Linked DNA regions of Homo sapiens. The protein of the gene in region 5 interacts with the protein of the main gene of each other region in a biochemical or structural test. Each region holds a gene or a part of one and is shown on either strand. Other genes may lie near its edges. The genes, in order: FBXW2, SEC23B, CAND1, SUGT1, SKP1, GLMN and FBXL4.

What was found.
Region 1: the proteins of SKP1 (region 5) and FBXW2 form a complex in vitro, tested with the Homo sapiens proteins (2 studies listed by BioGRID).
Region 2: the proteins of SKP1 (region 5) and SEC23B interact in a test that uses a peptide from one of them, tested with the Homo sapiens proteins (one study listed by BioGRID).
Region 3: the proteins of SKP1 (region 5) and CAND1 form a complex in vitro, tested with the Homo sapiens proteins (one study listed by BioGRID).
Region 4: the proteins of SKP1 (region 5) and SUGT1 form a complex in vitro, tested with the Homo sapiens proteins (2 studies listed by BioGRID and IntAct, with this or other methods).
Region 6: the proteins of SKP1 (region 5) and GLMN form a complex in vitro, tested with the Homo sapiens proteins (one study listed by BioGRID).
Region 7: the proteins of SKP1 (region 5) and FBXL4 form a complex in vitro, tested with the Homo sapiens proteins (one study listed by BioGRID).

Annotation. Positions count from the first base shown.
Region 1 is NC_000009.12:120,759,446-120,762,416, forward strand, and holds part of FBXW2 (F-box/WD repeat-containing protein 2), read right to left. Parts: 3' UTR 1-2,971. UniProt on the Homo sapiens protein: Substrate-recognition component of the SCF (SKP1-CUL1-F-box protein)-type E3 ubiquitin ligase complex.
Region 2 is NC_000020.11:18,549,440-18,552,939, forward strand, and holds part of SEC23B (protein transport protein Sec23B), read left to right. Parts: intron 1-1,649; coding exon 1,650-1,736; intron 1,737-3,500. UniProt on the Homo sapiens protein: Component of the coat protein complex II (COPII) which promotes the formation of transport vesicles from the endoplasmic reticulum (ER).
Region 3 is NC_000012.12:67,275,858-67,279,357, reverse strand, and holds part of CAND1 (cullin-associated NEDD8-dissociated protein 1), read right to left. Parts: intron 1-3,500. UniProt on the Homo sapiens protein: Key assembly factor of SCF (SKP1-CUL1-F-box protein) E3 ubiquitin ligase complexes that promotes the exchange of the substrate-recognition F-box subunit in SCF complexes, thereby playing a key role in the cellular repertoire of SCF complexes.
Region 4 is NC_000013.11:52,676,836-52,680,335, reverse strand, and holds part of SUGT1 (protein SGT1 homolog), read right to left. Parts: intron 363-3,500; coding exon 181-362; intron 1-180. UniProt on the Homo sapiens protein: May play a role in ubiquitination and subsequent proteasomal degradation of target proteins.
Region 5 is NC_000005.10:134,150,693-134,152,950, forward strand, and holds part of SKP1 (S-phase kinase-associated protein 1), read right to left. Parts: 3' UTR 1-2,258. UniProt on the Homo sapiens protein: Essential component of the SCF (SKP1-CUL1-F-box protein) ubiquitin ligase complex, which mediates the ubiquitination of proteins involved in cell cycle progression, signal transduction and transcription.
Region 6 is NC_000001.11:92,250,488-92,253,987, forward strand, and holds part of GLMN (glomulin), read right to left. Parts: intron 1-3,500.
Region 7 is NC_000006.12:98,878,447-98,881,946, reverse strand, and holds part of FBXL4 (F-box/LRR-repeat protein 4), read left to right. Parts: intron 1-1,322; coding exon 1,323-1,394; intron 1,395-3,500. UniProt on the Homo sapiens protein: Substrate-recognition component of the mitochondria-localized SCF-FBXL4 ubiquitin E3 ligase complex that plays a role in the restriction of mitophagy by controlling the degradation of BNIP3 and NIX mitophagy receptors.

The DNA.
Region 1 (2,971 bases), on a different chromosome or scaffold from region 5:
ACAGTTCAAATATAAACTTTATCTCATGCCCTCTAAATCACAACATACATCAAATTCGTGAAATATGAGTTGATTACTTTTTCCACATTGCTATAGATGTTGGATTGCTGACAGAACTATCTCTTCAACCTGAGCATTCTCATCAAGTATACTAAGTCTAAATCAGTGAAATATGCCTGTTCACAATCTGAGTACAAAGACACCAAAACATGAGCTTTTATCATCTGAATTACTAATTTTCCAGGGTTGAATATTAAAAACACATATTTACTTGGGCACATTTATGAAGAGTAGAAGTAGCTGAATTCTTTAGGCTGCAATAATTAAGTGGGTTTACACTGGTCAGGATTGAATTACTAAATTTAAACAACTGAACTGTTCCAGGAAAGACAAGAAACACTGAAACATCCTAACAGCAAAACAGCTTTTTGCACTGAGCGTGACCATTCAGTCTGATTAGGCTGATGGGAATGGTGCAAAGACTACTCAGTAATCCATTTGAGGATTTATTCTGAAAAAAGTTTACTTTCCTAGAGCAGGCATGGGGAACCTTTGATCAGAAACACTGCCAAAGATGGCTAATGGGCATTGTGTCAAAAAAGTGAATCTGTTCTTTTCATCAGACATTCTGAGGACAGCATAATTCTCAAGTGTCTTGGTTGTCTAAACCAAGCGAAAGCACCAGCGTAACCAGGTAGGAGGGCTGTGTCAAGAAGACGGACCTAAAGGGCTTCTCCCCTATCCTGACAACTGTGTCCACAGGCAAAGGTGACAGTATGCCCTGCCCGGACTGCATCATGAGTAGCAATCTGATTCTGCTCGCTTCCCAACAGAGAAAGGCAAGTGGCTTCATACACCAAGGCCCAGAGGAAGAGGCACAGAAAGCTATAAAAGTGATGCTGGGGCCGGGCACAGCAGCTCACGCCTGTAATCCCGGCACTTTGGGAGGTAGAGGCGGGCAGAACACGAGGTCAAGAAATCAAGACCATCCTGGCCAACATAGTGAAACCTCGTCTCTACTAAAAATACAAAAATAGCTGGGCGTGGTGGCACGCGCCTGTAGTCTCAGCTACTCAGGAGGCTGAGGCAGGAGAATCGCTTGAACCCAGGAGGCTGAGGTTGCAGTAAGCCGAGATCACGCCACTGCACTCCAGCCTGGGGATAGAGCAAGACTCTGTCTCAAAAACATACAAAAAAAACAAAACAAAACAAAAAAAACAGTGATGTTGGTAGGATTCACCTCTAGGCAATCTGGAAGCCACACAGTAACAACTTCAAGTTGCCAGCTGGGTTTGGTCAAAGAAATGTGTAAAGCCAGGATCCACTATCCTTAGCTGATTCTGTTAGATCAAAATGCCTAATACAAACAATTTCCTCATGTCTAAAATACTGTTTCCGAAAGTTATTTCTTTTGTTTTACAAATAGAGAGCAGTAATCATTTTCCTATGAATACTAGAATGATTATATAATCCTCATTCAAACCTCACACCAAGTGTTTTCAACAGCCAGAACAGAGCAATTTTTAAACTACGAAAAATGAAGTGCAAACCTTACAATTTCATAGCAATGTTCCCCACGTTTCACTCATGAACAGCTATCCAATTGCATGCACCTTCCTGCAGAACTTCTTCCAAGTCCAGTCCTTCCACTGGAGGGGCTTTCTTCCTATTTCTCCAATAGGTCTAAAATGTCAGGTTACAGTCAGATTTGGCAATGTGTATTACTTCAAATGATTGAGCTGGAGGAAACTACATTCCTTTGGAATGATGACAGAATCTATCAGAAACTTCACACATCCACTCAGCTCTCCTGGATCCCTGTCCACACCATGAAGCCTGAAGTTGTTATGATGGCCTTTATGAACCTGAAAGAAGCCGCTGGCTTCCACCACACCACAGTGTCACCCAAGAAATCCAATCCTTGTAAGAAAGGATAGGGCTTATCTTCTCATGACTTAGAATTTTTCAGAAATGAGAATATTCACAAAAGAGGGAAAGGCAATTCCCTTACCTATGCGCTAAGGAAGCCAAAGTCAGTGTGTGCAAGAGCTAGCTCTCAAAGGCAATGAAAGGAGAGTAAAGAATAGTTTTAGTTATCCCCTATCCACTTCTCATTCTGACTCCCCACTTTGCTTTCTTTTGCAAAAAGGATGAGCTAGTTTTCCATTTTTATAAAAACTGGCGATAGTATGAATAAACCCAGCATCTATAAAGTAGTTGAATAAAATCTCAGGCCAAATAAAGGCCTCCATAAGGAAGAACTGACATTAGGACTCCAATTACTGCCTGAAGTTCTGCTGTCAAAATCCAGCTGCATGATGATGCCACTGTACTCCAGCCTGTATGACAGAGCAAGACTGCCTAGGAAAAAAAAAAAATTCCAGCGGCACCAAGTACCACCTTGATGACTTCTGTATTCACCACTAAAAACTGAAATAGAACATACTATATACAGCTTCAAGTTTGTCACTTTTTAATAAAACTTTTCCCACAAATGATTATAATTACTTGCCCTTTGAAGCTATTGGATAGATCTGAAAGTGAGGTAGGGTGGGGATGGTCATTAGATCAGTAATAGTTATCTGTTCAGGCTCGATAAAAAGTAAAAACTCGGCCAGGCGTGGTGGCTCACGCCTGTAATCCCAGCACTTTGGGAGGCCAAGGCAGGTGGATGACCTGAGGTCAGGAGTTCAAGACCAGCCTGGCCAACATGGTGGAACCCTGTCTCTACTAAAAATATAAAAATTAGTTGGGTGTCATGGCAGATGCTTGTAATCCCAGCTACTTAGGAGGCTGAGGCAGGAGAATCACTTGAACCCAGGAGGCGGAGGTTGCAGTGAGCCAAGATCGTGCCATTGCACTCCAGCCTGCGCAGTAAGAGCGAAACTCTGTCTCAAAAAAAAAAAAATAATAATAAAGTAAAAAGTCATTTACCATCATCATTGCCCAAAGTCTCCTGGGGCTTCTGCAA
Region 2 (3,500 bases), on a different chromosome or scaffold from region 5:
GTACAGATGCATATTTTTTTCAAATATTTTCAGTCCAAGATTGGTTGAATTTATAGATGTGGAACCCACCGATACGGAGGGCCAACAGTATTCACAAAAAGTATGTAACATAATAAAATAGATAAGTCCTTATGTAAAAATGTTACATGAAAAAAAGTCAAAATAGAAACGTTTCTAAATATTCCCTGCAAAAATAAAGAACTATATGGAAAAAAACAAAATATCAATATTTGTTGTACTTGGGTACACATTTAAAAATTTTCTTTATCGAGTACCACTTACTTTTATTATTGAAATAATTACTAAAATAGCAGGGGGATCACATGACATCAGGAGTTTGAGACCAGCCTGGCCAATGTGGCGAAACCCCATCTCTACTAAACATACAAAAATTAGCTTGGAATGGCGCCAATAATCCCAGCTACTTGGGAGGCTGAGGCTGGAGAATCACTTGAACCCCGGAGGCGGAGGCTGCAGTGAGTTGAGATCGCGCCACTGCATTCCAGCCTGGGCAACAGAGCAAGACTCCCTCTCAAAAAATAAAAATAAAAAAGAAATAATTACATATATAAAAATTATATGTGTATATGTAAATATAATAAATTATATATGTATATATAAGAACTATGTATATAAATATATATGTATATGATTATATATGTATATATAAATATAAATTATATACTTATATAATATAAAATATTACTTACAAATAAATAATAAACGTATTTTTTTTTGAGATGGGGTGTCTGTCACCCAGGTTGGAGTACAGTTGTGCGATCTTGGCTCACTGCAACCTCCGCCTTCCAGGTTCAGGTGATCCTCCCACTTCAGCCTCCTGAATAGCTGGGACCACAGGCACGTGCCACTACAGCCCGGCTAATTTTTTGTGTTTTTGGTAGAGATGGGGTTTTGCCATGTTGCCCAGGCTGGCTTTGAACTCCTGGGTTCAAGTGATCTGCCTGCCTTGGCCTCCCAAAGTTCTAGGTTTACAGGCATGAGCCACTACGCCCAGCCATAATTTATATTTTGTAGTAAACTTTAAAAACTTGTATTAAATGCTGCTTTTCATATAGGTATCCGTATTCTGTCTCATCTACAGAGAATGTCTGTAGAGATTGCTAAAATACATACAAAACTGAGAATATTCAGAATTATTTTTCGTTCCAAGATCAAAAGATATCATTAAGCCTGGACAACATAGTGTGAGACCCTGTCTTTACAAAAAATAAAAAATTAGTTGGGCGTGGTGGCATGCACCTGTAGCCTCAGCTACTCAGGAGGCTGAGGTGGGAGGGTCACTTGAGCCCAGGAGGTCGAAGCTGCAGTGAGCCAGGGTCACATCACTTTACTCCAGGCTGGGTAACAGAGCAACACCCTGACTCTTAAAAAAAAAAAAGGTATCATTAATCTCCGTTCTCAATTGATGAGGAATTATTTGGAGCCTATTTTTCCTACAAAGTTGAGAATGAGTCAGAAGCAGAAAGTGGAAGTATGTCAGGAAGAAAAGGGGTGACTTACTGTGCTGGGCACCATTTGTAAATAGCCTTTGCTGTGGATACCAGGCATGGGATCAGGGTCGGGTGGAAGTGGTTGCTGTGTGGGGAGCAGGGAAGACCAATGCCATCTTTCTCTCTCTTTTTCTTCAGCCAGTACTCTTGGATAGCAGCAGCATTCTAGCTGACAGAATTTTGCTGATGGATACTTTCTTTCAAATTGTCATTTATCTTGGTGAGGTAAGATGATATTATTAATTAATTAATTTCTTTTTGTTTTTAAATTGGAGAAAAGGCATACACATTTAATGTGCACACAAGGAGAATTATTGTCCTTAACTATGGTTTTTGTTTTCTTCTCTTATTTATTAAGTTAGGTTTTTAATGACATTTGTAACCACAGTTTGGGCTTAGAAAGCACCATGGCTTTTATTCTAGTAAATCCCTGGAGTATTTGTATATTTATTAATTTTAATCATATTTGCTGTTAAGTATGGGCCAGGTGCAGTGGCTTATACCTGTAATCCCAGCACTTTGGGATGCTGAGGTGGGCAGATCACCTGAGGTCAGGAGTTCAAAACCAGCCTGACCAACATGGCAAAACCCCATCTCTACTAAAAATACAAAAGTTAGCCAGGCGTGGTGGCACACACCTGTAGTCCCATCTACTTGGGAGGCTGAGATGGGAGAATCACTTAAACCCGGGAGGTTGAGGTTGTAGTGAGCTGAGATCACACCACTGCATTCCAGCCTGGTCAACAGAGTGAAACTCCATCTCAAAAAATAAATAATAATAATAATAATATATGCTGTAAAAAAATCTCAGGTGGTTATTTTAAATCACTGTAAATTATTACCTTCGAAGTTAGGCAAAACTAGTTTTTTCTCCTCAGTAAATATTTTATACATACTGCTGTTCTTTCAGAGTTATATACATACTGCTGTTCTTTCAGAGTTAGTGTTTAGAGCTAAGGTTGTACTTTGATGAAATAACATGGCCCAGGGAACTTTACGCTGTGTCTGTGGATCCCTAGGATGGCTGTGGATAGCTTTCAGTCCATTTCTTTCTCAGTGGGGTTCATGCCCTGAGAAAGGGAATGGCTCCTCTGAATTATTTGCATCTTTATGGCAAAAAATCCTTTAATGAAGATGATGGTGATATTTATATTCAGTGATGCTTTTTCTTCTATTGTATGATCTCTACCTTCTTAAATTGGTTATTGATTTGGTTTCCTAATGGCCAACCATTAGAAATGATTTCTGATGTCGTGAAAAGATATAAATTGTGTTTCAGGATTCCTTCAGTAACTTAGGAAGTGTTAGTTTTCTAATACTCCTAAGTATTTTATAACTTTAAACTTTTTTCAGCATGTTAACACCCAGTCTGCTAGCCACTTGCACGCAAGTGCTAGGCTGTCAGTAATAGTCCTAGACTGAGAGCCGGATGACCAGCTGCTCTTCCCACTGGAACCTTTGGTATCAGTACAGTTGGCCCTCTGTATCCACGGGTTCCACCTCTGCAGATTCAATCAACTGCAGGTTAAAAATAATTTTGAAATAATAATAAAAAATAATACAAATAAAATATACAGCACAGGCCGGGTGTGGTAGTTCATGCCTGTAATCCCAGCACGTTGGGAGGCCGAGGTGGGCGGATCATCTGAGGTCAGGAGTTCAAGACCAGTCTGGCCAACATAGCGAAACCCTGTCTCTACTAAAAATACAAAAATTAGCTGGGCATGGTGGCAGACACCTGTAATCCCAGCTGCTCGGGAGGCTGAGGCAGGAGAATCGCTTGAACTCAGGAAGTGGAGGTTTCAGTGAGCTAAGATCGAGCCAGTGCACTCCAGCCTGGACGACAGAGTGAGACTCTGTCTCAAAAAACAAAACCAAAAAAACAGCACAAGAACGATTTATATAGTTTCTACATTGTATTAGATATTATAAGTAATCTAAAGATGATTTAAAGTGTATGGGAAGATGTACATCGGTTATATGAAATAC
Region 3 (3,500 bases), on a different chromosome or scaffold from region 5:
ATTTACTCTTTTAGGTATGGTGCTAAGGGCACAGATCTCAATACATTTTATAAAACACTACTCAAGAGCATATGGAAATTATCACACCCAAGAGTTGACTGTTAGGTTGGATCTCAAAGGATGAACAGGGGTTTGCATGGGAAAAATTGGTTTGGAATTTAAATTACTTTTTTTTTTTTTTTTGGTGGTGGGGAAGGACAGAGCACCTCAGAGTGAAGGACTAAGGAAACAGTTCAGTATGTGGAGCACAGAAACCTAATAGGAAGATGATGGGAATATAGGCTGAGGTCAAAATGGGAATGGCGTTATATACTCATACACTGTGTAATAAGAACCTACTACATATCAGGTACTGTACTAGTTTTTGCTGATATAAGGGCTAACCAAAGCACACACAATTCTTGCTGTCTTGGAGCTTACATTGCAGTCTAGTAAAAGGCATATTAACTTTTTAAATTGCATGTATGAGTAAGCACCTGTAGAACTAAGAACTAAGATAAATGCTATGAAGGAAAGTGTTATCAAGAAAACACTATGGGGCCAGGTGCCAGTGGCTCACGCCTGTAATCCCAGCACTTTGGGAGGCCAAGGCAGGCAGATCTCCTGAGGTCAGGAGTTCGACACCAGCCTGGCCAACATGGTGAAACCCTGTCTCTACTAAAATTACAAAAATTAGCTGGGTGTGGTGGTGTACACCTGTAATCTCACCTACTTGGGAGGCTAAGGCAGGAGAATCGCTTGAACCTGGGACACAGAGGTTGCAGTGAGCCGAGATTGAGCCACTGCACTACAGCCTAGGTGACAGAGTGAGATTCATCCCAAAACAAGAAAGCACTATCATATAAACAAAGTAACATGACCTAGACTGAACTGCGGGTTGTGTCAGGAAAGACTGATCTGAAGAGTAGGAGCTGGGCATGGTGGCTCACACCTGTAATCCCAGCACTTTGGGAGACCTAGGCAGGTGGAGGTCAGGAGTTCCAAACCAGCCTGGACAACATGGTGAAACCCCGTCTCTACCAAAAATACAAAATTAGCCAGGCATGGTAGTACATGCCTGTAATCCCACCTATTTGGGAGGCTGAGGCAGGGGAAATGCTTGAACCTGGGCGGCAGTCGCTTGAAGCCGGGCAGTGGAGGTTGCAGTGAGTCAAGATCACGTCACTGCACCCCAGCCTGAGCAAAAGAGTGACACTCTGTCTCAAAAATAAATAAAGAGTAGGCAAAATTACGGTGAAGCAGGAGGAAGTTAGTGCCAGGTAAGCAAGGGCCAGGAATTTAAAGGATTTGTAGACCATATCAGGATTTTAGCCTTTATTCTAAGAGAGTGGGAAGCTACTGAAAAACAACTGGGTTACAGATGGGGAATAAATGCAATGATCAGATTTACATTTCAGAAACATTACTCCAGCTATACTGTGGACCATACTTTGGAGAGAACAAATCTTCATTTGGCCATACTGAATGGAGACTAGTTAGGAGAATGACTAAGTTAGAAATTATGATGGCCTGACTTAGGTTATGGCAATCAATGAAGATGGAAAAAAAAATGACATACAGTTGATTCTCATTATTCCCAGGTTCCATATTTGCAAATTCACCTACTCATTAACATTTATTTGTAAAGCAAAATTAATGCTTCCTATTTCACAGTCATTTGGATGAGTGTCGAGTGGTGAAAATTTTGAGTAATCCAACACATACATTCCCAGCTGTGGTGGCACAAAGCAACACTCTGCCTTCTAGCTCCAGCTCTCATGTTGTAAACAAGCATCTTCTTCTTGGCCTATTTCAGCCCATGTTTTTCACATGTTTGTGCTTTTTCTTGGCGCTCTTGTTGTTTAATATGGCCTCCAAGCACAGTGCTGAAATGCTGTCTAGCATTCCTAAGTGCAAGAAGGCTATAATGTGCCTTCTGAAAAAAACATATGTGTTAGATAAGCTTCTTTATTGGCTGTGAATTCAATGTTAATAAATCAGCAATATATATTAAGACAACTTTAAAAGAAACACTCATAAAACGAGGTTACAAACTCATCAACTGATTAAAATAATGTGACTCAGGACTCAGAGAAACTAATTCCATAATTCCCTCAGAAGCAATGGTTCAGTACTTGCTAACTCAGTGTTTGTGATAATGTTACAAAACATACTACAAATAATGAGAACTAGTTGGTTTGAATTTTACAAACTAAAATTAATAGTTCTTCAAAATGGATTAGATATAGGGATGGTAAGGATGAGCTAGCAGGAAAGAAGTAAAAGGAAAACCACAAGACTGGGTAATACAGTCAGCTAACATATCCTTGTCCAGAGTCTTAATGTTACCCTGCAGCCATTGTCACATCAGATGAATAAACTGCTCATCTTACAACAGAAGAAAGGATTAACTTTGGTTAAACTGCAAACTACATGGAATGGATATTCCTCTGATCTTAACAAAATCTCCGCCATAGTGAAGATGTGAAAATCAAAAATTAATGTCCTGCAGCCCAACTTTGTCTACCCTTGGCCAAAAGTGGGCACTGATAAAGAAAAAAACAGCAGCCTCCACATTCCAGAAACTTATCTGAGACTCATAACTAAACCTCAGTGTTATTACTAACCGATCTGATGCTTAACAGCTAAGGCATATTGTTTTCTTGGACATAAACAATCTCACAGAACATCCATTTCGGACAAGGTCCCTGAGCAATACAAAATACCAAACATTCCCCTCTCCAGTTAAATGAGTGACTGATACTTCTTTACCAACTACAGCTTTCCCCCTGCTTAGGTCAGCCCTCCCTGTAAAATTTATTAAGAGGCCGAATCATAGAATTGACCTCACTTTCTGACAACACTCAACCTAAAGCAAGGCTTCACTTCCTTAGACTCTTTCCCAAATTACCCAAATGAATAGGTTCCTTCTAACATCCTCTGATACCCTAAAGTGTGTGTTTTCCCTGACTATTACGGACAAAAACCCAACTCGTGTCAGGATGCCCATATAAGAGAATTCCAAGAAGGAAAAAGTGATTTAAAAAAATATACCAAATAGATGAGCAAAGAAAATATCCACTAAATGAGTTATATTAGGAGACTAGGGAGACTGTTGGGGATTTTAGGAGAGCAGTCTCTACGAATTCAGATGGGCAACAGCTAAGAAATCTGGAGTTTATCTTGTAGTCAATGGAAATTAGTGAGGGAGGCAATGATCAGCTGCAGTATATAGGAAGAAAATTCTAATGGCCAGAGGGAACAAACTGGGTTAGGAAGAGGCCTGAGACAGCAAGATTAATTTGAGAAATACTCATCAGGAGACTAAAGAAGACAGACGGGAGAAGGGTGATATCAAAGATTTTCTGCTTGTGACTTTCAGTGGATGGTAATTTAACAGGCCAAAATAAGGATAAAGAAGGCATTAAGACGGGAAAAGAAAAAGATAAATGTTTACGTTTCAGACTTCAATGGAATTCCCAGGTTGATATGACCTGTAGGCAGTGCCATCTCATTCCTTT
Region 4 (3,500 bases), on a different chromosome or scaffold from region 5:
CCATAAGTTTTCAACTTCCTCAAAAATTACTCTTAGAGCAAAAAGAAACGTTCAGACAGACCTTATTCAAAAAGTTCTCCCAGCTATAGTACACGCAATTTGGTCTCACATTACCAATTTTCTCGTTTAAAATATGTAAAATTTGCTCCCATATATATTTCTTTAAGTTTATATTCTTACAAAGGATTTGTTCATGGCACGTTTCACTTCATCAGAACCATCTGAATAGATCTGCTGAAATAATCTGTTTAAAGCTGCATCTCCCTCCAACTTTTCATTCTTTTCTTCTTCTTTGATCTCACCAACCAATTTATCCCAATTTCTTGTATAAGGAGATGATGATGGATATAGGTTCTTTACATCTATGAAGTAAAAAAAGGCAGAAGTAATTAATCAACATGTTTCAATTATGTCGAGAATATGTAAACTTTGTGACCATGTATATGGAACATCTTAGCAAACAGTTTAGGTTACTGAATTTCAGGTATGCAATAAGTGTCTTTCTGGTATATAGGTCAATAACAAAATTCACATTTCTAAAAACTGAGTCAGTTACCATAATGTAAAATCTGGGGATTTCTTTTGAGCAAAATAACTCAATAAAGTGTAAACTTTTGATATGCTATACAAAATTAGATTAAAAGCAGATTCTTCATGTTGATAACAGAAACTAGATGAAAAGTATACAGAACTTTTATGTTTTCAGAAAAGTTGCAGAGACAGTACGAACAATTCTAAAAATGAAATTTTTTAAAGGATGCCTAAGAAATCTTTTGTAACTAAGATTTTAATAAATGTTAAAAATGTGACTTTTTCTAAAGTACTTAGTATCTTTCAGAGTATAAATAGCCTGAAAATATAAATAATCATCCATGCCACTCCATACTCTCCCATCAAAAAAGTAAGATTATTTTAATAGGCAATAACAGTAAGTAATTTCTAAATGTTTAAAGTACTACACTTGATGATCTAAAGTTCAATGCCCACATCCCATACACCTAGCAAATAATAGTATTTGTAGGGCACACTGGAGTAAACAGAGCTGCTTGCAGCGAGAGAGGCTACTGGCCCAGGGGCTCGGGGTACTGCCAAGATTGCTCCAAAGACCAAAGGCATCAAGATCTTGGCACACAAATAATTAGAAAATAACTAGACAACCTAGTAGCTATAGGAGCAGCTCTGTTGACTATCCAATGAAAATATAATGACAGCCTCAAATGTGAGTCACATATATAATTTAAAACTTCCTAGTAACTACATTACTAAAAAGAATCAGGTGAAATGCAGTTTAATAATACATTTTATTTAACCTGATATATCAAATATAGTATCATATTGACTTGAAACCAACAGAGGCCGGGCATGGGGGCTCACACCTATAATCCCAGCACTTTGGGAGGCCAAGTAGGAGGATTGCTTGAGGCCAGAAGTGTGAGACCAGCCTGGGCAACATAGTGAGAGCCCATCTCTATGAAAAAAAAATAATAATAATTAGCTGGGCGTGGTGGCACATGCCTGCAGTACCAGCTACTCGGAAGGTTGGGGTAGAGGACTGCTTGAGTCCAGGAGGTTGAGGCTACACTGAGCCATGACAGTGCCACTGCATTCCAGCCTGGGTGACACAGCAAGACTCTCTCTTAAAAAAAAAAAAAAACCAACAAAAAAAATGAAGATATTTTATATTCTTTTTTTCATACTAACTCTTCAAACTGTAGCATATATTTCACATAGCACATCATCTCAATGCAGACTAGTCATATTTCAAGTGCTCAACAGGTAACATGTGGCTAGCAGCTACTGTGTTGGACAAAAGAGCTACAGTTTTCAAAAAACCCAATTCAAAATTTCCCCATCAGTATGTATTAGGACACATTAGTACTAATCTAAATGTTCCTCCCAATACTGCTCTCTACATCCCTTTTGTCAAAATAGCTGAGAAACTAACATCCACTGTTTTTCTACGCTTTCTCTTCACTTGTAAACCGACTTTCTCCCTGCCCATTCCTCCTCAAAACAAAACAACACACACAACACCAACACATAGTTTTTTTTCAGGGCCAAATATATTGTTTTGAAAATCCTATCCACCTTCCTTCTACTAGATATCCTTCTATCTTTGTACATTTTCACTAGTAGCCAGGTAAAACAAAAAATGCGTGCCATGGTAAGTTAAGAGCCTGGGAAATATGGATTTAATTAATCCTAATGCTGACTCCCAGGAAGGATGAGAACAGAGGTTTTAATCTCTATTTTGTAGATAAGCAAGCTGGGTCAGATAGGTTAAGTGACTTGCCCTTATCTACAGTCTCCAGCTTGCAATACACAGGAATCTGACAAGTATATTAATTTCTTACAAAAACAGGACAGGAAGAGTATCATCTTGAATATCTAAGGTGTTGAGTTTAGAAAAAACATGGTAACTGTAACACTAAAAAGCCTTGATCTTTAATCTCAGAAAAACTTTTAACACCTGGAGATGGCAGATGAACTACTGAGAGATGAGTAATCTAACCTCCCTGCTCATTCACTATAATATCAAATAACTACTAGATACTCATGTCGGCAAAGACTGTTTCCATTGTTAGAAAATGCAACAACAAGCAGTATGCAACAAGTAGACAACGGGTTAACAGAATAACTGGACCCAACTGAGAAGACCTAGATTTTAGTCCTAGACAATGAGAACTGAGGGATAATCTTGAGCTTAACTTTTCTGAGCCTGCAAAATGGGAGGAATACTAAGGGGCTGCCTGTTATGCAGGGCTGTTAGAATTAAGTAAGATACTACATTTAAAGTGATTATATATTTTTTAAAGCTTTCAGCTACATATAAACCTCAGCCTCAAAATCTATTGGAGTCAGTCCTAAAAGAAACACATACATCTTTCAAATAAAGTGTGAAGCAGATGCTTAAATACCTTAAATACCAACTAGATATACTTCAGTCCTTAAAAAGTATCTGTTGGTGTTAATACCCTGATTTTGAAAATTATACCACAGACTACTTAAGAGGTAATCATTGGACTAGTTAAGACACTATCAATGGGGGAAACTGGGTGAAAGCTATATGAGAATCTCTTATTTTTGAAATTTCTAAACATCCAAAATTATTTCTTAAGAAATAACTATACACACACACACAAACACACACACAAATGATCTGTTGAATAACTCAGTGTTTTCTAAAAGGTGCCACAAGGAAATGTGTTTTCTGTTACAGAAGAAAGCAGTCAAAATCAGAAAAAGCTGAGACACATGTTAGCTTGTTTCAGTCATTAAATCAGACCATTACTTCCAATAAAAAGAAATTTCCCTCCACTCATTAATGAAGCTATTGCTATAAAATATAATCTTAGGTTGTAGTTCTGAGTGTGCTGTGAATTTGTCCACTAGAAAAATTCTTACCTAGTTATTGCACATACTTAAAATTGACCTCAACACAAAGTTCTGTTTCTTACAGGGTTATATATACAATGAAGCCTGGTTTTCTACTCTTCTCC
Region 5 (2,258 bases):
GCAGACCCTGGTTGTGTCAACTCCCCCAATCCCAACTTATTGTGATAACCTTGTTCCAAATCTCAAATCACCCTATGGGCATCTTTCAAATTCTGACTCCTGAGCTCTTCTCTAATAGTTTGGAGCTACTAACAAACCATTACTGGCAGTGAGCATCTGAAAATACTCAAAACGGCACCGAGTTTGAAAACAGGAAACATAGATGGTGGGGATGTTCACATACACAGTCCCTTAGAATAAAAGCCTAGCTCAGGTCAGGAAGGATTTTCAAGCTCTTAAAGATAGCATGGGATTAGGCATGTTAACTGGAAAGGGAAAACTTATGTCCTGGGGGTGGGAACTATACTATCACAAGCAGTCCTCACAAGTTAGGTCACTATTGGTAAGGGATGTTTCACTTCTGAAGACAAGATAGCAGCTGTGAATTATGCGGGAGATAGTCCAGGCCAATACTTCTTTCATATTCACCAGGGGCTCTGGACCAAGTCTTCCTTTTTCATTCAAGTGTTCTCATTCTTTTATCTGAAGCCTAGTTCTTTCAGGCATGTGCAATGTCAGGAAGCGGGGTGGGGCTTGGGGAGGGAAGAGGAAAAGCCAGGTTCCACTCACCAAAAATAAATAAATAAATAAATAAAAATTTTTACAAAGCCACTCTGGAAACCCTGCTTGAGTACTTGAGGATAGAGTACAGCTTCTCTATTTTCCCACCCCTTTCCGTAAGCTTCCTGGAACAGAAAAATCTGCAAAGCAACTGAAGAAGGCAGTTAGAGGTTGTGAAATGGTACATTCAGGAAAGAAAGGACAAATAAGAATTTTCACCAGATAGGTGGGAGGTATTCAAAGTGAGAGCACTTTAAGGAAATAAGCTGATCCTCAGTGTGCAATAAGAGGCTGCTATATAGCAGGTTGAAAATTTGAAGTTAAGAGATATCAGAAGGTCTGAATATACTTAAATACTTCCAGAAAATTTAAAGTTGACAGATATCAGAAGGTCGCAAGAACTACAGATGTGGAAGCAGACACTGTTATGAGCAACTACATTCCTCCCATAGAATGCTGCTCAATACTGGCACACAGACCAGAGGTAGCCAGCAGTACACAAGACTGCAAGGCAACAAGTACATTATCAATGAATTAGCCATCTATCACTCAAACTATGTCCCGCATTGGAAGTGTGTCAAGCAAGAGCACCTTCGACAACACTTTTCGGCCACCACTAATGATCATCTCCACTGATGCCTCAGCAGAAAGGATAACATTCAGCCAATCCTGCTTAGGTGTCCAAATGGCTCAATCTTGGGCCAAAGGACATGCTCTGAAATATTTCTTACACCATACTTCATCTTGATATGCACAGCCAGTTCTCTTACTCATTCTCTGTGACCACTGGAGGTAGTGATTTTTAACAACAGTAAACAAGAAAAAGTCATCAGGACTCTAACTGTAAAACCCCCAACATTCAAAAGACTGGTTTAGTTGAACAGCCAAAAAATAAATAAATAAAAATTAAAATTAAAAAAATTAGAATTTAGCTCACTCAAAAATTGCCCTGCCTAATGTGGGTCTGATGAATAAATGCTGATAAAATACTACTGAGTGTCAGCAAAGTACTGTGACTAATCCTGCCCTAATTTCTCTTTAGTCTATATTCTCAGGGAAATGTACCAACACCCAACCTTCTGCTGTTAGTTCCTGACTGTGCACTGCTTTTTCCTCACTTTGGCATCTGTCCACCCCCAAACAAATCCAACTTGATTCTTGAAACCAAATTAGTTTCACTTTACAAAACCTTTCGTAGCACCTTTCAGCTCTGTAGCCCCCCATTGGCTCATTAATCTGTTCTGTCCAGAAACTTTTTTTTTTTGAAACGGAGTCTCGCTCTGTCGCCAGGCTGGACTGCAGTCAGTGGCGTGATGTCGGCTCACTGCAACTTCCGCCTCCCGGGTTCAAGCGGTTCTCCTGCCTCAGCCTCCCGAGTTGCTGGGACTACAGGCATGTGCCACCACGCCCAGCTAATTTTTGTATTTTTAGTAGAGATGAGGTTTCACCATGTTGGCCAGGATGGTCTCGATCTCTTGACCTCGTGATCTGCACACCTCAGCCTCTGAAAATGTTGGGATTACAGGCGTGAGCCACCGTGCCCAGCCCAGGAACATTTTTATTAGAGTTATCCACTCCCTCCCAGCAGTATTTATGCCTTCTCTCCTGAACTACACCAAAAGCTCCCAGCTCCCTAGAGGGAAACCATGTCTAATGCT
Region 6 (3,500 bases), on a different chromosome or scaffold from region 5:
ATTTACATTGCTGTATGTTTTCCCATTCACACGGGGTAAAAGTTTTTCTAGGATACTGTTTTTCAAATTATTTTTGCCATGACTCTCAGTAAAAACTAGGTTTTACATCACAACTCACACGTTTATTTATATAGTTGAAATAAAAGTTTTCCCTCAAATCCTTTCCATATAACACATTTAATCTTAATACTTTAATGTAGAAAAATGGAGAATAAACAATTCAAAAGTAAACATCAGAAAGATTTTTACATAATCAGTGTGCTTGCCTGTTCATGAGGTAATTTCAGTCTAATTCACTATTGAGCCTAGTTCTTTTCTTTTTATTATTTTTCAAAGTCAGGTTTGTTGAGATATTGTTTACATACAGTAAAATATAACCTTCTAGCTATACAATTCTGAGCTTTGACAAAGATATATAGTGATATAAAGTCATGTAACCACTGCTGCTGTAAAGATATTCCCATGACCCAGAAATTTCTTTGTGCCCCTTTGTAGTCAGTTTCCTCCCACCTCCAGCAACCAGCAATCTGATTTTTGTTAAGGTAATTTTTGCCTTTTCCAGAATGCCATAAGTGGAATTAAAACTCTTTGTGGCAGAAATTGACAAAATTCTAAAATTTATACAGAAAAGGTAAAGGATTTAAAAATAGCCAATACAATTTTGAAAAAGAAGAACAAAGTTGGCAGACTCACATTACTTGAGGTCAAGACTTCCTATAAAGGAATAAAACAGAATAATTTCTTCCTATAAAGGAATCAAGACAGTGTGGTATTGGTAAAAGAATAGATACAGGTAAATGGAATAGAGTCCAAAAATAGACCCATACTTATAAAATGATTTTTGATAAAGTTGCCAAGATAATTCAGTAAATTAAGGATAACCTTTTCTACAAATAGTGTTGAGGTCAAAATAAAAGAAAAAAAAATCTCTCAACCCATATCTCATATCATAAAAAGTTTACTTGAAATGGGGTCATTGACCTAAGTGTAAAACCTAAAACTATACAATTTCTACAAGAAATTACCTTTGTGATCTGGGTTAACAAAGACTTCTTAGAACCCATAAATAATGAATCATAAAAGAATAAAATTGATAAGTTGGACTCCATAAATATTAAAATTTCTGTTCTTTGAAAAATACTATTAAAACACAAGCCACAGACTGGAATATTTGCAAAAATATAACCAAAGAATTTGTATCCATGAAAAACTTTCCTCTTGTAGAAGTTCTAAGTTGAAAATTTTTTTCTTTCATCCTTTCAGTTTTACTTTGTAATGGAAATTCTTTTAAATCTGATTCCCAAAACTTTTTTTTTTTTTTTTAAGATGGTGTCTTCTTGCTCTGTTGCCCAGGCTGGAGTGCAGAGGCATGATCTGAGCTCACTGCAGCCTCCACCTACTGGGTTCAAGCAATTCTCCTGCCTCAGCCTCCAGAGTAGCTGGGATTATAAGCGTCTGCCACCATGCCCAGCTAATTTTTTTGTAGTTTTAGTAGAGATGGGGTTTCGCCATGTTGGACTGGCTGGTCTCTAACTCCTAACCTCAGGTGATCTGCCCGCCTCAGCCTCCCAAAGTGCTGGGATTACAGTGATAAAGTTTTATAATCATTCATTGGTACAAATATACAATTAAGCTTCACTAATTCTCTTCAGCCAAAAATTTTAACCAAATTACTAAATCAGGACTTTAAAAAGCAAATGTATCTCTAACCAAACGTTTTCTTTTAATGTTTCAAATTTCTCAAATGGAAATAATCACATATTAATAAAGAGTACTGGCCCAGCGCAGTAGCTCATGCCTGTAATCCCAGATGGGAGGATCACCTGAGTACAGGAGGTTGTTATTGCAATGTGCCGTGATTGCGCCACTGCACTCCAGCCTGGGCTATAGAGTGAGACCCCAACTCAAAAGGAAAAAAAAATTAATATAAATTTAAATAGTCACATGTGTCTACTGTCTACTGTATTGGACAGTGCAAATCTAGATCTTTGAATGTTAAAACCTTAGCTGTTTTCAATGGCAATAGCCCATAATCATAAAACTTCAGGTAATAAAAACACATGCCAAAAGTAGCCTAAAGAAATTTTTTACATATTCTGTTCAGCATAATTCCACAAATTTTTCAGATGATAAACTGTAATATTTTTAGAAGCATGTAGGAGTGAAGAAGCTGTGAGAATAAGAATATTTTTTCTCTCAAGGTTACCAGATCGTTTTTAAAGAAATAATAAATACTACAAAGAAAATCACATTTTAAGATTTCTTAAAATCTTTCAGTGTCTAGAAAAAGTAAATTAAGAGTTTTAAAATAGTTATAATTAAAAATTTGAAATGTTCACAAATACCTGCTTTTAATTTCATACCCAAGGAGGCTTACTGATTTCCAGTTCTAAGGCTTAAAACTATACATTTCAAAATTCACTGTAGCATATCTCTCTCACAAAAGGAAGACTAGGCAGTTCTACACTACAATGAAATTTATTGCCAGAACAGTCAGGAACCCTGCAAAGAATACAGTCAGTGATGGTAATGAAGAAATAAAAAGCCATGAACAAGACCCAGGTTTCCCCTTTCTTCTAATTCATATAGAAGTCATCCGGCTCTGCAAATATTTCATGGATATGTTTTATCTTAGAGAAAGAAACAACTTACACAATATGCCCCTGTACCAAACCTGCACCCCTGAATCTTAAATAGAAATGGAAATTGAAAAAAAACTTAAGCTCTAGATTCCTCCTCTCTCTGGGCAGGGCATCTCTGAAAGAAAGGCAGCAGCTCCAGTCAGGGGCTTATAGATAAAACTTCCATCTCCCTGGGACAGAGCACCTTGGGGAAAGGGTGGCTGTGGGTGCAGCTTCAGCAGACAAACATTCCTGCCTGCCAGCTCTGAAGAGAGCAGCAGATCTCTCAGCACAGCGCTTGAGCTCTGCTAAGGGACAGACTGCTTCCTCAAATGGGTCCCTGACCCCTCGTGCTTCCTGATAGGGAGACACCTCCCAGCAGGGGTCAACAGCCACCTCATACAGGAGAGCTCCGGCTGGCATCTGGCGGGTGCCCCTCTGGGATGAAGCTTCCAGAGGAAGGAGCAGGCAGCAATCTTTGCTGTTCTGCAGCCTCCAATGGTGATACCCGGGCAAACAGGGTCTGGAGTGGACCCCCAGCAAACTGCAGCAGACCTGCAGAAGAGGGGCCTGACTGTTAGAAGGAAAACTAACAAACACAAAGCAATAGCATTAACGTCAACAAAAAGGATGACCCAAGCAAAAACTCCACCCAAAGGTCACCAACAGCAAAGACCAAAGGTAGAAATCCACGAAGACGAGGAAAAAGCAGCGGAAAAGGGCTGAAAATTCCAAGCACACGAACACCTCTTCTCCAAAGGATCACAACTCCTTGCCAGCAAGGGAACAAAACTGGACAGAGAATGAGTTTGATGAACTGACAGAAGTAGGCTTCAGAAGTTGAGTAATAACAAACTCCTCCAAGCTAAAGGAGCATGT
Region 7 (3,500 bases), on a different chromosome or scaffold from region 5:
AATTAAAAAAAAAACAAACCTAATGTTATGTTCCTGTCTGTTAATTAGTTAACATGGCTAAGTATTGTGAAGAACCTGAAAATTAAATTATCTTAATATACCCTTTCTAATGTTAACATTCTGAGAGCTACATGGGATTGTTTTATAAATGTTGTTATGTTGAAACTTAAGTATAAAATCAATATAAACTTTTTTTGTTTAAATTCAAAGAAATGCTCAATAATGAAATAATTAGACTTAAGTATAATAGTCCTCTGTGGCCTATTGTAACTATTATTATTTTTGCTTTAAGTAACCTTACATTTGAGAAATATTTTATTACTTTATTTTCTCAATGAGAATCTTTATCTGGGATTTGACCAAATGTTTTACATTTTCATTGACACATTCTTCACCTTTCCCTCAACTGATAGTTTTTAGTTTCTGATCACTTGGAACAGATTTTTACAGAAGTTGTATAATATCTTAATTTTTAAATATATTTAAAAATGTATAAGATATTTTGCCATGTAAGTTTGAATAGTTTTCTCCTTAATTGATAAAAGAAAAATTAGAAATTTGAATATTTTGCATTATTTTGTTTTTCACAATTTTTCATAGCAGACTTTTTTAAAAAAATATTTTAGGGTGCCATGATTATGTAGCAGTCTTTGGGTTTCTTTAGTGGTGAGACCATTTTCATTGCACAGGATAGATGGGCTTAAATGGCAGGAACATGACTAGAAAGTACATATTATATATATTTCAGTCAGCATGTTGCTACTGACAGGTGCTCAATGGTTGTTGGTATCCTTGTCAGCAAAGAGAATCCTTTGACATTAAAGTCACCAGCTCAATCCTGATTTGGGGTGACTCTATTGGCAGTTCCATCAAGCTGCAGCTGATCAGTGAATGTCAGAGCTGCAGCCATTCTTCAGGAGTGTCACCAGCCTGCTGCGGGTTTTTTGTCTTTTTGTTTTTGTTTTTGGAGGGAGGAGTGGTTTAGCTTGTCTTGTTGTTCAATTGTAGCCAGACTTTCAAATTGCTTACCTTTGGGAAATGAACCGAGAGGTCATAGGGAATATAGGTATCTTTAGGGCATCCAAAACCATACACAAAGTGATTACTTACATGGAGACTAGTAATGATTACCTTGACTCCAAGCCAATCAATGGTGGAGCCTCTGGGGACTCATTAAATGGCATTTGTGGACTCTGTAACCTAGCTTTTGAGCTGCATTTCAGGAAAAGCAGTGACAGCCTTTAATGTCTAATTGACCTCTTCTCTTTGTTTCACTTTCATTCACTTTCCATATTTGCCTCTGATGTGGTCCCTAATGGCAGCAAACAGCACTGCTCAGCATTTTGAACTTCTGTTCAGAGCTTCAGCACCTCAGTTTAGGCAGTTGTGTCATGGTAAGTGTTTGAGAATTCTTTATACTACTCAATTACTTGTTCTCTTTTTCTTCCTATGGGTGAAATGTATCCTGACTCACCCTACCCCACACACACCCACAGTTTTTCAGATTTATGGTTCTCTTCTTTGTCCCTTGCTTTCAAACATTTTTCTTAAATTGGAAAGTATGTCTTTGAAACACTGACATTATTTATCCATGAGAGCAAGGAAAGAAGTATAGTGTGGTGGAATAGAGTATAGTTCTGCCTCAAGCCAGATGTTGTCTCCGACAAGCTAATCACCTCTCTAGGTTTCTTCACAAACTAAGGTGTTAGTCATACCTAAATGCCGATAGTTCAGTAAGTTTTTCACTAAGCTCATTTTAGCTTTTAAATCCTGAGATACTTTTCTTGAAATTTTAATGATAATAGATAGGTTTATTTTATCTGTTTGTTTTTGTGTTTGTTTTACTGTCCTTACTGGTCAAAACAGAAAGATTAACACCCTATGTTGGAACTCTTTTTTGTGTGTGGAAATTTTACTGGTCTGTGAAATATAAAAGCCTAGGGACTGTTGGACTAGATAAGCTTCAAAGTCCTTCCAGATTTTTTTTTTTTTTTTTTTTTTTTTGAGATGGAGTCTTGCTCTGTTGCCCGGGCTGGAGTGCAGCGGCGCGATCTTGACTCACTGCAATCTCCGTCTCCCGGATTCAAGCAATTCTCCTGCCTCAACCTCCCAAGTAGCTGGGATTACAGGGATGTACCACTATGCCCGGCTAATTTTTTTGTATTTTTAGTAGAGATGGGGTTTCACCCTATTGGTCAGGCTGGTCTTGGGTTTCACCATATTGGGCAGGCTGGTCTTGGGTTTCACCATATTGGGTAGGCTGGTCTTGAACTCCTGACCTTGTGATCCGCCCGCCTCGGCCTCCCAAATTGCCGGGATTACAGGTGTGAGCCACTGCGCCCAGCCTAGTCCTTCCAGATTTAAAATACGATTTTATGTGCCCTTGAAAGAGCTCATGGAAAGAGTTAAATGTTTTAATCTAAACCACATAATTATATAGCTTTTAAATAATACTGAGATATAAAGGACAATAGAAATCTTGTGTGGAGAAGGTGTGCATGTGTGTGTTTGTGTGCACACATACCGTAAGTGAATCTTCCAGTGTAACTGACTGGAAGAATTCATTCCTCCTCACTTCATCCCCTGTTCCCTAAAACAATGTAGGTTTAGGAGATCCCCAGACCATTCCATTTCTGCCTTGCATTCACTTAGTAGGAAGACTTGAATTAGCAAAATGATTGCAAGATTCTAGAAAACTTCTGGTATGCTAGGGAGTATTTGCTTTAAGTAACCTTACATTTTGAGAAATATTTTATTAGAGTCAATAGACAGGGTCCCTGACCTAAAATGAGTACCATTTGAACACCTCTTAGAGCTCAGTGTGGCTTCAGAAATGCCTCAAGATTTGGCAGTGTAGACTAAGTAGGCCTCTTTTGATGACATATTTATCTCTGTGTCCCCATGGTCTTTAAAATCTTGTGGTTAGGTCTTATTAAACCCTAAGTATGGGCTCAGGCCATCTCAGTCTCTAGAAACAGTCTTGGGAGCCCACTAGATTTTCCTCACTTCTGGTCAAATTCTTTCCATAGTAAGCCATTTGATAGGCTTCTGTGGGTCTCTTCAGTGACTCTTCTTGATGGACCCGATGACATTTGATGGCAGTTTCTGTCACAACAAACCAGCCAGTTACTGCCACTTGGATCTTCCTTATTGCTAGCCTGCTCTCTTTAGATTGGTAAGGACCATTTAACTTTGCTTAGATGTACCTTATTCTGCTTGTTATTTACCTCCCCTTAAACTGGAGCAACATTCCTTAGAAAATCAAGCCTCTGGCCATAGACTCTTTACTGTTGGAATTATATATATGCTTATAATTGAAATTGTATTATTTTAAGTTAGCATTTTCCAGAGTTGACCCATGGAAAATTACCTCTAAAGGATAATCAATTTTAAAGGCTGTGTATTTGGGGGTGGAGTGGAGATTCCTAATGAAATTAGGAAGCCAGGTATGGTTGCTCAAACCTATAGTCCCAACTACTCTGGAGGCTGATGTAGGAGGA